Linked DNA regions of Homo sapiens. The protein of the gene in region 1 purifies or fractionates together with the protein of each later gene. This does not show direct contact. Each region holds a gene or a part of one and is shown in the gene's direction. Other genes may lie near its edges.

Region 1 (6,892 bases):
GGATGTGACTGATTAAGGTCAGAGAGCTTTAACGTCATCCAGCCATCTTTTCAGAACAGTACTTATGATCTGACAAAGCAACTGCTGATTGATAAAAGGTGGAAAGTAATTAGAAAGGTAATACAGAGAACGATAATACTTTGGATACATGATGAAGTGTGATAACATCTATTTTTCTGGCTGGGGAATGAGATAAACAAATAGAGAACTGATCATGGTGCATGAAGCACCTAGAGAAAGAACATTTCAGTTGGGTGCAAAATGTAACGTTCCTTGTCTAGTTCAGAACTATGGCTACTCAAGGGGAGAAGGCAGGCAGACAAAGGACTGTCAACAGCAATGTCTCTTATTGTTCTTTGGCTACAGCTGCACTTGCATACTCATGCTGACTTCGTGCCCAAATGTTAACTAGGCCAGAACTTGATCAGACTGAAATCTGTAAAAGAAAAAAAAATCATCACAGATACCAAGAAAATGTATTTCCTTGAATCTGTTCTAACTCTGAATTTTGTTAAAAAATTAGATTTTTTTTTTTTTTTAGTGGGAGGAAAAGGAGGACAGCTCAAAACCACTTAATTCAGAATCTGCAGTGTAATTGTTATGGTAGGCTCAAATGTGATTTGAACATCCCTAGCTATGGGATTTGGTGACCAAGCTCCCAAGAGAGGATGACACAGCACAGGGAATAGCACAGGCAGCTTGCCTTGCTTTGTAGGGGGCAGAGATGTGAAAGTCCTTGTTGAGGTCAGTGGAGCTGAGAGTACTCTTCATAATTTAAATGGACACGGGTAATTTCCTTACATGTAGGCAAGCCAGCCCTAGGGATAGGAAGGAGAAAGAAAAACAGGGAGTACAGAATGCAGATGGCTGCCCTCTGCTAATTAGGCCTTACCTTTATATAGAATGCTTTTGATTTTTTCAGACACTTTCAGGTATATTAACTCATGCACAGAGGTCAAATATTATTATTATTAAACAAAGTGCAGAGAAGTATTGAGAATTAGCTCAGTTAATGAATTAGCTCAACTAGGTAATAGATGCATTAAGATTAGATGGGGACAGTCACTCTGGAATGCCAGGAAAACAAAACATTCAGAAATAAGTATAGTAACCACATTAATACAATCAAGGGAACAAGCCTTTCCTTCCAAAGTGACGGAAATTAAGTTTACTTGTTGGTGTCCTTACTTCCATATTCATTCATTTGTTCATTCATTTATCATGTATTAAATGCTTCCTACTTGCTTATCATTCTGCTCAGTGGGCCTGGGGGATGTAGAAATGAGACATTATCTCTTTTCATTTGTTGAGGCCCTACAAGGTGCCAGAACCGTTCCAGGCGTTGGGGATATAGTAATTAAAAACAAAACAAAACAAACCAAACAAGAAATGTATAAGCCAGTGTGGAGTAAGTCAATTAAAATTAACAAAGCAAAAGGAAGTAAGTCCTATAATAAAAATGCCTTGATGGATAGAGGGATGGGTAGATGACCAGTTATGTTTTAAAGCAAGTATATATATAGTACGATGTTAGTGATAGAGTCTAGGTGGTGGGTATACTGGTGTTTGCTGTAAAATCTTTCAACTGTGCTCGAAAATTTTTATGATAAAATATTATGGAATAAACACTATAGGAATGACAAGGAAGATGCAGATTTGAGAAAAGTTTATGAAAGACATGGCATTCTTTTTTTTTTTTTAAGAGACAAGTCGATAGAGGAGTGCAATGGCATGATCACAGCTGCAACCTCGAACTCCTGGGCTCAAGTGATCCTCCTGCCTCAGCCTCTGGTGTAGCTGGGACTACAGGTGTGCACTACCATGCCCAGTTAATTTTTGTACTTTTTGTGGAGATGGGGGTCTCATTATGTTGCCCAGGCTGGTCTCAAACTCCTAGCCTCAAGTGATCCTCACTCTTCTGCCTCCCAAAATGTTGGGATTACAGGCATGAGCCACCCCACTGGCCTTTGGCATTCCTTTATCCTCCTCCTCTTCTCCTTAACTACCTAATATCCCCATGCTAACCCTTAGCTGTAGGTTCAACTTCCAAATTCCAATGGGCTATAAAGAGTTCTACAAAAGTCCATGATGACTAATAAATCTATCTAGTAGAGAAAAGACCTTTTGGAGAAGAGGCTAACTCTAGGACCACCTAAAACTCACCCACTCCATAGCTATTTGGTAAGGCACCCCTTTAGGAAACTTCACCCAAATGCCTGCTTCTGGGTACCAGGTAGTGGCCACTCTCCCCATCTTTGTCTCCTGTCTGAGCTGCTACCGAGTTTGATGTTAGATGGTGACATAAAATACAGTAATTCCTAGATATATGCGGAGGGACTGGTCCCAGGACAGCCTACATGTAACCAAATCCACACATGAAGTCCCACAGTCAGTCCTGAGGAAACTGCACAAATATTGTGTTTTCCATCTGCCCTTGGTTTAAAAAAAAAGCTGCATAAAAGTGAACCTCACAGTTTGAACCAGTGTTGTTCAAGTGTCAACTTTAATTTAAAAGTGAAAAAAGTTTGTTTTCTCTGGTATCCTTTTTTTTGTTTTGTTTTGTTTTTGTTTTTGTTTTTTGACACAGGCTCTGGCTCTGCTGACCAGGCTGGAGTGCAGTGGGGAGATCATGGCTCACTGCAGCCTCGATTTCCCTGGCTTGAGAGAAAATTATTTTTTTCAAAATAATCTTCAATTTAAGGTAATTTACTAAGTTTCAAAAGATAATGCTATTGACGTAAATTCTGTTTTAGATTGTAGGCCCCATCAGCTCATTGATACTAGTCCCAAGTTCACAGGAGAAGAGACTGGAAGTTACTAGGCTAGTCCTGCCTCTCTCAGGTGTGTCCCAGCAAAACTTTTCTTTCCAGTTTCAGCGCTTTAGAAACCTTTTCTCTTCAAACACTAATACAGGGCCTAGACTGTACCAGCACTGTTCTGAGAACTTTACATACACTAATTCATTTAATTCTCACAAAAATCCTGGGATGTAATTGCCATTATTATTCCCATTTAACAGATAAGAACACTGAAGCACAGAGAGATTAAGTAACTTGCTCAGGGACCTGGATGTGAATGCAGAAATCTGGCTCCAGAGGTGGAGTCTGAAACTGCCTTTCTAAGTGACTGATTGCCAATCTCTGGAAAACCGTTCAATTGAAGATATTAATGGATCAAAATGTCAGTATGTTTTCAGATACCCTAACTCCATAGGAAGCTCAGTGTATGGGATGAGATACTGTGGTTTAGAAGGGAATTGCTTTTCCAACGGAGGGCACCCTTCAGATAAGCCCCTCAAATTGCCCTTCACTAGAGAGTCGCACGAGGACAGGCCTGCTAAAAAGGATGGCGCTGGGGGGTTTCCAAGACAGGAAATATCTAAAGCCAGCGGCTGACATATTATCTTGGCGAACGGGAGAAGGGAAAAAGAACCCTCATTTTTTGGAAACACAAGTTTTTAGCCTGGATAATGGGTAAATGACATTAACTCTTCGTTCCACACTAATCTTTCAAGCTTGTTCAAATTTTGCTTCTCAAACCTGGGCCATTCCTTCTTATCTAATCTGCCTATTATTTCCTTCAAGCTTTTTATCCCTTCTGAAAATAGGTGGTAGCATACCAAATTAAAATACAGAACAGCCTGTTTCTTTCCCCCAGGGTCCACTAGGGCGCGTCGGAGAAAGGGTTAACCGGGCGGGTGGGAGGGAAGGTCGGGCTCACACCTTTCGCAGAGACCTCGGGCGGCGGCGGGGCCCGGGAGGGGCGGAGGCTGGGGCCAGACGCCTCGCCGCCTCCGCCTCGGCGAATAGCAGCGCGCTGCCCGCCCGGATTGGAGCAGCAGCATCACGCTGACCTCTGCCTGGGATGTAAACCGGACCAGCCGCTGCGGGCAAAGGAAGGCTCTTGGCTCCTTCGGGAAACCCAGCCCCGTCACCGGGCTCCGAGCGGCTCGCAGGCGAGCGACAGCGGCCTCAGCCCCGGCAGCGCCCAGCGGCGGCTGCGGAAAGCGGAGGGAGTCCGACGCGGGCGCGGGCGGGGAGCGTGCGTCCGTTCGCACAGGCAGCGGGAGGAGGGGCGGCGCGAACCATGGCCGGGGACAGCGAGCAGACCCTGCAGAACCACCAGCAGCCCAACGGCGGCGAGCCCTTCCTTATAGGCGTCAGCGGGGGAACAGCTAGCGGCAAGGTACGGCGGGGCCCGGAGCCGCGCTCCCTTCCCGGCTTCTGTCCCTGGGCGGCGCATGTGGCCGGCGGCCGCGGGCCGTGTCAGTTGCGGCAGCCACCGCGTGGCCCGCGCGCCTCCGCTCCCGGCCGCGCTCCAGCGCCGAGTGCGCCCCGCGCGGCCTGGGGGCGCTGCGGCGGGGGCAGGCGAAGACTCGGGCCTTGGGGGTTCCGGGGGTACGCGGCCACGATCGCAGGGCGGGAGTGCTCCTCCGGCTTTTCTCCCCCCGCGTTAATAACTCGTGGCCGGGGTCCTATGGGGGAAGGGCAGGGAAGCGGATGCTTATTGTTTTGCAACTCCAGTGTCGGGGGAGAGGGCTTTCCGCAGGATCCCCCACTAACCCCCGATGGACTCCCTCAAGCCCCGGTCTGGCACAGACGTGCTCGCCCCGCGGCGCAGCCTGGTGCCGAGGGCGGAGCGAGCCGGGAAGCGCGGCCGAGAGGGCGAGGGTGGCGGGAACGCGCGAGGCGGCATCCCGGGGAAGGGGAGCCCAGTGTGGGGCTGCACGCAAGGGCTGGGGATTACAGGGGTTTCCGGGTAAAAGTCTGAGAGCCAAATAGGTGCCGTGACATCAATGAAACGATAATAGTAGGGGCTTCTGTTTTTTAAGGTTATAAGAGGAAACGTGGTCGGCTTCAATGAGAAAGTTGTACTGGCTCCAAGCTCTTCGGTGTCCAGGACGTACGCGTCTTGGATCCACGGAAGGGGGTCATCGTATGGGTGTCTGACCCTCTTAGGAGCCTGTTTCCTTTGTTTTATCCGCAAGGCAAGGAGAGACAAGGGAAATGACTTCCTAGCTTTACCCGGGGTTTTTTCTGCAGGTGGAGAAGGGTGGAGTCCTCCCAGATGGTTCTTTCTTTGCTCCCCTAACAGCCTTTAAGATGTGGCTACTTGTTTTTCCCACCGTTTAACACCCTCCAACTTCATTTGGAGCACGGGTTCCTCAAGGGATCCTGAGAGCTGGGTGCTGGGTGCTGGTTTGGAGAGGCAGGATGATGCTTCTCCCGGCTGGGGAGAGCAGAGCAGGAAGGCTGGTTGGCGCCATGAGGAAAGAGCCACGAGGTTTTAGCTCCCGAACCGACTCGTCAGTAGCCCCTCCTCCATGTTGGTTTTACATTTTTCCCTCCTGGTCTGGACTACTTTAGCGCAAGGAGCCCAGCCAGACACGGCGGCTGGCGCTGCTGGACTTCTTTATTGATGAAGTTGATCTCGTCCGTAGCTCCCGGGGTTAGGAATCGGCCTGCTTTAGGTCCTGAAGTTTCTGTTCTGTGTGCTCCCTGGTTGAAGGCTTTTAAAAAAATTTGTAATTTTTGAGTATGTTCTTTACTATGACTTATACTAGTAATTCAAAGCAAAACCAGAATGCTAGCCCTTCAGGAAGCTTTACCTGTTCTTTTAGAATTATTCTTGCTCTTCTGGCATATTCCTGTTGGATTGGGAGCATTTTTTGTTGTTGTTGTTCATGGCTGTTTTCCCAGCCCTCCTAGCACAATGCCTGCCTGGCATGTAGTGGGGTCCAAATTTTAAGCTGAAGTCCAGTCCTCCTAAAGTGGGGAGGAGGCTTAAACTTGCATATGAGCTTTTAGAAACAAAATGATCTTGGTAATCATCTGAATAATTTAGTTACCACGAGGGTGAAAACTGCGACCCTAAAAGGTGAATAACTCTGTTATTGTTCTTCTTGTGTGTTTCTCAGTCGTCACCTGTTCTAACTTGATAATCAAGCTTTTGGTGTTACTTGGGTAAAGTGAGGGATGGGATAGTGGTGAGCCAATGTGGGAGTAGCTAATTCTCTGCTATTTTTATCCAGGAGGAAGAGTGTAGAAACTCTCAAGAAAGGAAGGGTCCGTTTTTCTGCAGTTTTCAAAGCATGTTGTACATTTTTATTTATTAATTTAATTTTTGAGACAAGGTCTCGCATTTCCACCTAGCCCAGAGTAAGTGGCACTGTCACAGCTCACTGCAGCCTCAGCCTCAACCTGGAGTAACTGGGAGTACAGGCTGGCACTATCATGACTGGCTAATTTTTTTGTTTGTTTGATTTGTTTTGTTTTTGAGACAGGGTCTCACTCTTTTGCCCAGGCTGGAGTGCCGTGGTGAGATCTTGGCTTACTGTACCCTCCACCTGTTGGGCTCAAGTGATCCTCCCACTTCAGCCTCCAGAGTAGCTGAGACTACAGGCTTGCACCATCATGCCCGACTAATTTTTTTTTTTTTGTAGAGAAGGGGTTTTGCCATGTTGCCAGGCTGATCTCAAATGCCTAGACTTAAGTGATCCGCCCGCCTCTGCCTCCCAAAGTGCTGGGATTACAGGTGTGAGCCACTACCTGGGCTGGCTTTTTAATCTTTATTTTTTTTATTATTTTTTTTTTTTGAGACAGAGTCTTGCTCTGTTGCCCAGGCTGGAGTGCAGTGGCATGATCTCGGCTCACTGCAAGCTCCGCCTCCCGGGTTCATGCCATTCTTCTGCCTCAGCCTCCCAAGTAGCTGGGACTACAGGTGCCCGCCACCACGCCTGGCCAATGTTTTTGTATTTTCAGTAAACACGGAGTTTCACTGTGTTAGCCAGGATGGTCTCAATCTCCTGACCTTGTGATCCGCCCGCCTCGGCCTCCCAAAGTGCTGGGATTACAGGTGTGCGCCACCACGCCGGCAATCTTTATTTTTTGTA
Region 2 (7,004 bases), on another chromosome or scaffold:
AGAGAGGGAAGCAGGTTTGTGAGAGCTCTGAGGCAGAGTGGTCAATGATTAAGAGCTCAGACTCTGGAGCCAGGGTGCCTGGATTCAAATCTGATGCCTGCCTGTTACAGCTGTGTGGCTTTTGGCAGGCCGTTTAGTCTCTTTAAGCCTCAGCTTCCTCAGTCTGTAAATTAGAGATGATGGAATGCTTGCATCGTGGGGGTGTTGTAAAAATTAAATGAGAATTCACATAGGTGCTTGGCAAGATACCTGGCCATGGCTTAAGTGCTCAGTGAATATTTATTAGAAGTGTGACTGCACGAGCATTGGGTGAGGGCAGAGGGAGGTAGCTCCCGAATCCTCCAAATGGCTTTTAGATGGATTGCAGGGAGGCTGGGCAGATGGATGAGTGGCAGAGTGAAGCCTGGGCATGAGCCTTGCAGAAAGGCTGCCCTCTGACCCAGCTTTCTCGGTGCCTCCAGGTGGAGAACCGGCCCCTGCCTGGCCACACACAGCTTCGACTGCCTGGCTGCCCCACCCCCGTGTCTTTTGGCCTCCTATTTTCTGTTGCCTTCCCCGTGGATGGAGAGCCTGGTGAGCATAGTACTCTGCAGGGTCACCCGTTTACCTCCATTTTTCCTGTTTTCTGAAGCCCATGTTGGGCTGCTAGGAACCCATCAGTCCATCTCTCACATGTACCTTGGTAGTGTTCACCTCAGCGTGGGCACTTACCCAGGGTCTTCTGGGGGATGTACAAAAAGTGCATGTGGTCACTGCCCTTTGAGAGTGTGGTGTGATTCTTCAGGAGTGCGCTACCCAGGAAAGAGATCAGTTCTAAGGTATGTTTTGTTTTGTTTGTTTGTTTGTTTGTTTTGAGACAGAGTCTCACTCTGTCACCCAGGCTGCAGTGCAATGGCACGATCTCGGCTCCTGCAACCTCTGCTTCCCAGGTTCAAGCGATTCTCCTGTCTCAGCCTCCTGAGTAGCTGGGATTACAGGCGCGTGCCACCAGGCCTGGCTAATTTTTGTATTTTTAGTAGAGACGGGGTTTCACCATGTTGGTCAGGTTGGTCTCGAACTCCTGACCTCGTGATCTGCCCGCCTTGGCCTCCCAAAGTGCTGGGATTACGGGCGTGAGCCACTGCACCTGGCCTCTAAGGTGTGGTTTTTACGGTAAATGTTCTGAAGAGCTCAGAGAAAGGGAAGACAGATGAGCTGGAATTGTCAGTGGAAGCTTCTTGTAGGAGCTGGTGCTCCCCCTGAGGAATGTACAGCATTTGTGATTAGGACACTGAGAATCCCCAGTGTCCTCTGGGCACCCAGCAAGAATTCTATTATAGTTGCTTTAATTAATGCTGCCCCCATTTCTTCCATGCAAATTATCAGGGAATTCTTTAGCACCAGAGACCCTCTCAGACCTCTGGTCATCAGCTTATGGGAAACCCTGGGTTCCTATAAACACTGCTCCTACTTTTTTCTAGTCACTCCTGGGGGCCTCTTCCACCTTGACTACTCCCTGCCCCTTCCCCTTTCCAGTTCTACTGCCTTTAGCTATGTTGGCAGTGAGAGGTGAGGATGATGACCAGCTGTAAGTGTTTAAATGTTTATCTTCAGATGCAGAGGTTGTGGTAGGAACCACAAGGCCAGAGACGCTGCCTGGAGATGTGGCTGTGGCCGTTCATCCAGACGACTCGCGATACACAGTAATACCCAGTGCGCTCCTGCACTCTGGCCCGCCCCGCCAATGGCCTTCTCTTCTCTTGGGTTTTAAATGGTGGCTCTTTCTCTCTTGCTTCTACTTCCTTTTCCTGAGACTTCTCTCAGTGGTTCTGATTGGACTCCCTCCTCCTCTTATAGTTTTTCTGTAGCTCAGGGGTTGACAAACTGGCCCATGGTCCTAATCCAGCTTGCGGCCTTTTTTTTTGAGACAGAGTCTCGCTCTGTCACCAAGGCTGGAGGGCAGTGGTGTGATCTTGGCTCACTGCAACCTCCACCTCCTGGGTTCAAGCAATTCTCCTGCCTCAGCCTCCTGAGTAGCTGGGAGCGTGGCACCATGCCCGGCACGTGCCACCACACCCAGCTAATTTTTTGTATTTTTACAAAAATTAGTAATTAATTTTTTTTAAGTAATGTAATTTTTAAGTAATGTTATTTAGTAGAGACGGAGTGTCACTGTGTTAGCCAGGATAGTCTCGATCTCCTGACCTCGTGATCTGCCCACCTCGGCCTCCCAAAGTGCTGGGATTACAGGCGTGAGCCGCCGCGCCTGGCTGCTTGCAGCCTTTATATTATCTATGGCTGCTATTATATACCCTCTCCAGCTCTGCTGCAGTGGCATAATAGAGTAATTGTGCTGAGAATGAATTTGTCTCTAGGCCCAAAAGCCTAAAATATCTACATTCTGGCCCCTTAAGAGTTTGCTGACCTTGCTCTAGCTTGCTACCTTCCACTTTCTACCTTCTTATTCCTGGGGTTCTCACGCCCCAGCCCAGACCCTTCCAACCCTCACAGGTGCCTGTCCTTGATCCCTCTCCCTTCCCTTCAGCATCTACACGGGCGACAGCTTCGTCACCCCTTGATGGGGCAGCCTCTTCCCCTCATCACAGACTATGCTGTTCAGCCACATGTGGGCACGGGTGAGTGGAAGTCAGGGGAGGGAGAGAAAGTTGGGGGTCCTGGAGGAGAGGGGAGGGAACCAGGAGGAAGAGGAAGGTGGGAGTGGGAGATCCTCATATAGGGTGGTCTGAGTGGGGAATGGGAGGGAGGCACAGACAGAGAAAGTCGCAGGGGCTGGGGCGGTGCAGGTGATGATGATACATCTGGAAAAGCAAAAGCCAAGGTCAGGTTCAGTACTCACCATGGCTGTGCTCCCCAAGGGGCAGTGAAGGTGACTCCAGCTCACAGTCCTGCCGATGCTGAGATGGGGGCCCGACATGGCTTGAGCCCCTTGAATGTCATTGCGGAGGATGGGACCATGACCTCCCTCTGCGGGGACTGGCTGCAGGTGGTACCACCCTATGTTACCCCATCCTTTGGGGGCTCTCTGTCCCCCTAATCCTCCTCCTAGTTTCTTATTTCTCTAGAGGCCTTCAGTCTTTACTCTTGCCGCTTTTTCTCCAGGGTCTTCACCGGTTTGTGGCCCGGGAAAAGATAATGTCTGTGCTGAGTGAATGGGGCCTGTTCCGGGGCCTCCAGAACCACCCCATGGTACTGCCCATCTGCAGGTAACCTCATTTTAACTCCTTTACTAAGGGCTACCCCAAAAGGGAATGTATGGAGCTTAAGGGTGACAATAGGATGGGCTCTGCACCCCTCCGTTAGAATACGAGCTCCGTGTCGGTTTTATTCGCTATTGTATCCTCAGTACCAAGGGCCTGGCATGGCATGGGGTCTTGTGCCCCTGGGAGAAGTCACAGGGCCGGAAGAGCAGTGGACTCACCCTGTCTCTCTTTCAGCCGTTCTGGGGATGTGATAGAATACCTGCTGAAGAACCAGTGGTTTGTCCGCTGCCAGGAAATGGGGGCCCGAGCTGCCAAGGTGAGGCTGCAGTGTAGGAAGGACTGGGGCCAGGGGTTGGGGGAGCTCCCTGAGAATTGGAATGAAGAAATGGGAAGCAGGAGACCTCCTGCCCTGAAGACCTCTCCAGCTGTGGTAACTGAGAGGATGTGTGGGATGGAGGCTGGGCGGCCCAGCAAGGGCTGGCTCATATCCTTACTCAAGCCCAGAATCTTGGCAAGAGGCTTGGGAGGTCCTTTCTGAGTTTTAAAATGACCTCAGAGGCCACTCGTCCTATCTGTGGAGGTGCGGCCGTGCAGGAAGGGCAACATTGTCTAAAGTCCCCTTTCTCTCCAGGCTGTGGAGTCGGGGGCCCTGGAGCTCAGTCCCTCCTTCCACCAGAAGAACTGGCAGCACTGGTTTTCCCATATTGGGTAAGGGTAGGGTAAGGGGAGCTCTTGTGGAGATGGGGAGGGGGGACTGACTGGTTATTCTAAGACTTCACGAATGTCCTCCCGGCAGGGACTGGTGTGTCTCCCGGCAGCTGTGGTGGGGCCATCAGATTCCAGCCTACCTGGTTGTAGAGGACCATGCGCAGGTGGGTAGGAAGAAGCACCCGGAGGGCCGAGTGTGGCACAGAGCACCTAGCCCAGGAGTCAGAGCTCCGCAGGGCCAAGTCCCGCTCCTGCCTGGTCATGTGCTTCATGCTCATAGTCATGTAACCTTCTGCGCGATCAAGGCTCCCTGAAGTGGCATTTCTTTATCTCACCCCTGGGGGAACCTGGCCACTCTAAGACCACATGAGGACGTGAAAACCAAGTGACATTTACACCTGTCAGCTGTTCTTCCTCACTCTCCCCAACCCCTTCCTACTTTTGCAGGGAGAAGAGGACTGTTGGGTGGTTGGGCGGTCAGAGGCTGAGGCCAGAGAGGTAGCAGCGGAACTGACAGGGAGGCCAGGGGCAGAGCTGACCCTGGAGAGGGGTGAGTGCCTGAGCTGGGGAGGGATGTACAGGGGAGCGGGGGCCTGGGCATCTGGGCCTTTGAGGGGAACAGATCCCAAGATACAGAAGGTAGGGTCAGGAAAGTTGGGAATGGAGCCAAAGGGGACAGCCCTGGTCTCTGGGGGTGGGGGTTGGCCTAGAATGGTGGCAGCAGTGGTCTGAGGTCCTAGAAGCCAAGGTTCCAACTGTCCCCATTCTTTTTCTGTTTCCCAGATCCTGATGTCCTAGACACATGGTTTTCTTCTGCCCTGTTCCCCTTTTCTGCCCTGGGCTGGCCCCAAGAGGTGAGGTGGGTTGAGAGGGCGAAAGTGAAGGGGAAACGATAAGGAAGGGATGGCTGGGCCCCCACAGAGGCTTGAGGGGGGCCTGGGGCCTGGGCCTCTTACTGCTCCTCTTCCCCCTAGACCCCAGACCTTGCTCGTTTCTACCCCCTGTCACTTTTGGAAACGGGCAGCGACCTTCTGCTGTTCTGGGTGGGCCGCATGGTCATGTTGGGGACCCAGCTCACAGGGCAGCTGCCCTTCAGCAAGGTAAGAGCCCTTCAGTGCCCTGCCGCTTTCTGTGACTCCAGTGTTCCCCAAACCTTGTCCTCCCTTCTAACCCCTAATGTGGTCCTTTCCACGTTGCTGATTCCTTTTTCCTAATTCACTTCCTACCCTACCCCCAAAAGTATGGAGGCCAGAGATCCCAAGGCACCTCCAAGGAAACCCCCCTCTGTTGACCCCTCCCTGCCCCCAGGTGCTTCTTCATCCCATGGTTCGGGACAGGCAGGGCCGGAAGATGAGCAAGTCCCTGGGGAATGTGCTGGACCCAAGAGACATCATCAGTGGGGTGGAGATGCAGGTGAGGACGAAGCACCCACTAGAGGGACAAGGTTTGCAGGGTTTGCAGGAGAGAGGAAGGCAGGCTGAGGGAGGAGTGAGGCCAGCAGGTGTGACCCTTATAGAGGCAGGGCCTTCGACCTGGGTCGTGAATTGCCCCCTTCCATCCCCAGGTGCTGCAGGAAAAGCTGAGAAGCGGAAATTTGGACCCTGCAGAGCTGGCCATTGTGGCTGCAGCACAGGTGAGTCATCGCTGCCTGCCCCCCACCAGCTCTAGCTCACCACCTCTGGCTTCCTCTGCAACCCAGGTCCTGGCCCTGCAGCCACAAAGGCATCTGCCACCCTTCTTCTTCCTCTGGTTGCAGAAAAAGGACTTTCCTCACGGGATCCCTGAGTGTGGGACAGATGCCCTGAGATTCACACTCTGCTCCCATGGAGTTCAGGGTAAGCCTGGGCGAGGGGTGTCGGGGTGAGCAGAGGGCAGCGGGCACCTGTGCAGGGGCAGGGCAGGGGCAGGACTTCTGGTGCTGCTGCCACCTACATGCAGACTACCTCGATTCTTCCCTTCCAGCGGGCGACTTGCACCTGTCAGTCTCTGAGGTCCAGAGCTGCCGACATTTCTGCAACAAGATCTGGAATGCTCTTCGCTTTATCCTCAATGCTTTAGGGGAGAAATTTGTGCCACAGCCTGCTGAGGAGGTAAGAGAAAACAGAGGTGCTTGGGAGTAGGGTAGTCAGGTGTCAGAGGGCCAAGGTGGCATCTGGAAGGAAAGGAGGCAGGGGAGGGGGAGTCAGGCCATCCTGCCCCCTCTGCCTGCAGCTGTCTCCCTCCTCCCCGATGGATGCCTGGATCCTGAGCCGCCTTGCCCTGGCTGCCCAGGAGTGTGAGCGGGGCTTCCTCACCCGAGAGCTCTCGCTCGTCACTCATGCCCTGCACCACTTCTGGCTTCACAACCTCTGTGACGTCTACCTGGTGAGTGAGGCTGGGGGAGGCTTGGTATTCCCATGCCTGCTTCTAATTCCTCTGGAAATTTCCAAGGCAGAGAGCTCTGGAGTTAATAAGTTCCCAATTGTCCCCTCAGTTAGGAGAGGAGAGGAGACGAGGGAGTCTCAGTTCCCCTCTTCCTGGGACTGGTTTTGGCAGTGCAGCCCAGGCACTGTTGCCTGCCTGTCACCTGGGGAGAGGAGGAGGAGGGAGACTTCTAGAAATGTCTGACAAGTCGGTGTCAGAAGGCAGAGGGGAATTTTTTCAGTCCCTGTAGTTGCTGAGTTTGGCCCATGGGCAGGCTGCGTGCTGAGAGAGGCCTGGGAGGGACTAGCAGCGGTCTTTAGACCAGGGGTTCTCACGCTGTCCTACGTCCAAAGCACCTGGAGGGCTTGTTGACGGTGGATCCCCCCCGCTCCACTGCCACCCCAGAGTGGCTCCTTTAGCAGGTTGGGGTGGGGGTGGGTGGTGTAATGAATATTCATTTCTTGTCCCAAGTGGTGCTGCTGCTGCTGGCTGTGGACCACTGCCCTAGCTCAGCCTTTTAAAAACCTCTGTCCCCTGTTGATAAGCAAAAAACTCAATGATTTTTTTCCCTAAACTACATGTTTCCCTGGAAATCCTGTCCCTGTGTACTGCAGAGAATTGCTGTCCTGGAGTCCCCTTCTTTGTGCTGAGTGTGTCCTGGGACTGTGGATCATATCAGAAGTGCTAAGTGCT

What was found.
Region 2: the proteins of UCK2 (region 1) and VARS2 purify together in Homo sapiens (affinity purification with mass spectrometry; 2 studies listed by BioGRID and IntAct, with this or other methods). This does not show direct contact.

Annotation. Positions count from the first base shown.
Region 1 is NC_000001.11:165,823,748-165,830,639, forward strand, and holds the start of UCK2 (uridine-cytidine kinase 2), read left to right. Parts: upstream 1-3,866; 5' UTR 3,867-4,086; coding exon 4,087-4,185; intron 4,186-6,892. UniProt on the Homo sapiens protein: Phosphorylates uridine and cytidine to uridine monophosphate and cytidine monophosphate. Does not phosphorylate deoxyribonucleosides or purine ribonucleosides. Can use ATP or GTP as a phosphate donor.
Region 2 is NC_000006.12:30,917,234-30,924,237, forward strand, and holds part of VARS2 (valine--tRNA ligase, mitochondrial isoform 2 precursor), read left to right. Parts: intron 1-461; coding exon 462-573; intron 574-1,593; coding exon 1,594-1,682; intron 1,683-2,524; coding exon 2,525-2,615; intron 2,616-2,855; coding exon 2,856-2,983; intron 2,984-3,099; coding exon 3,100-3,203; intron 3,204-3,434; coding exon 3,435-3,516; intron 3,517-3,831; coding exon 3,832-3,908; intron 3,909-3,996; coding exon 3,997-4,072; intron 4,073-4,355; coding exon 4,356-4,458; intron 4,459-4,691; coding exon 4,692-4,762; intron 4,763-4,882; coding exon 4,883-5,008; intron 5,009-5,216; coding exon 5,217-5,321; intron 5,322-5,472; coding exon 5,473-5,541; intron 5,542-5,664; coding exon 5,665-5,743; intron 5,744-5,870; coding exon 5,871-5,998; intron 5,999-6,119; coding exon 6,120-6,272; intron 6,273-7,004. UniProt on the Homo sapiens protein: Catalyzes the attachment of valine to tRNA(Val) in a two-step reaction: valine is first activated by ATP to form Val-AMP and then transferred to the acceptor end of tRNA(Val).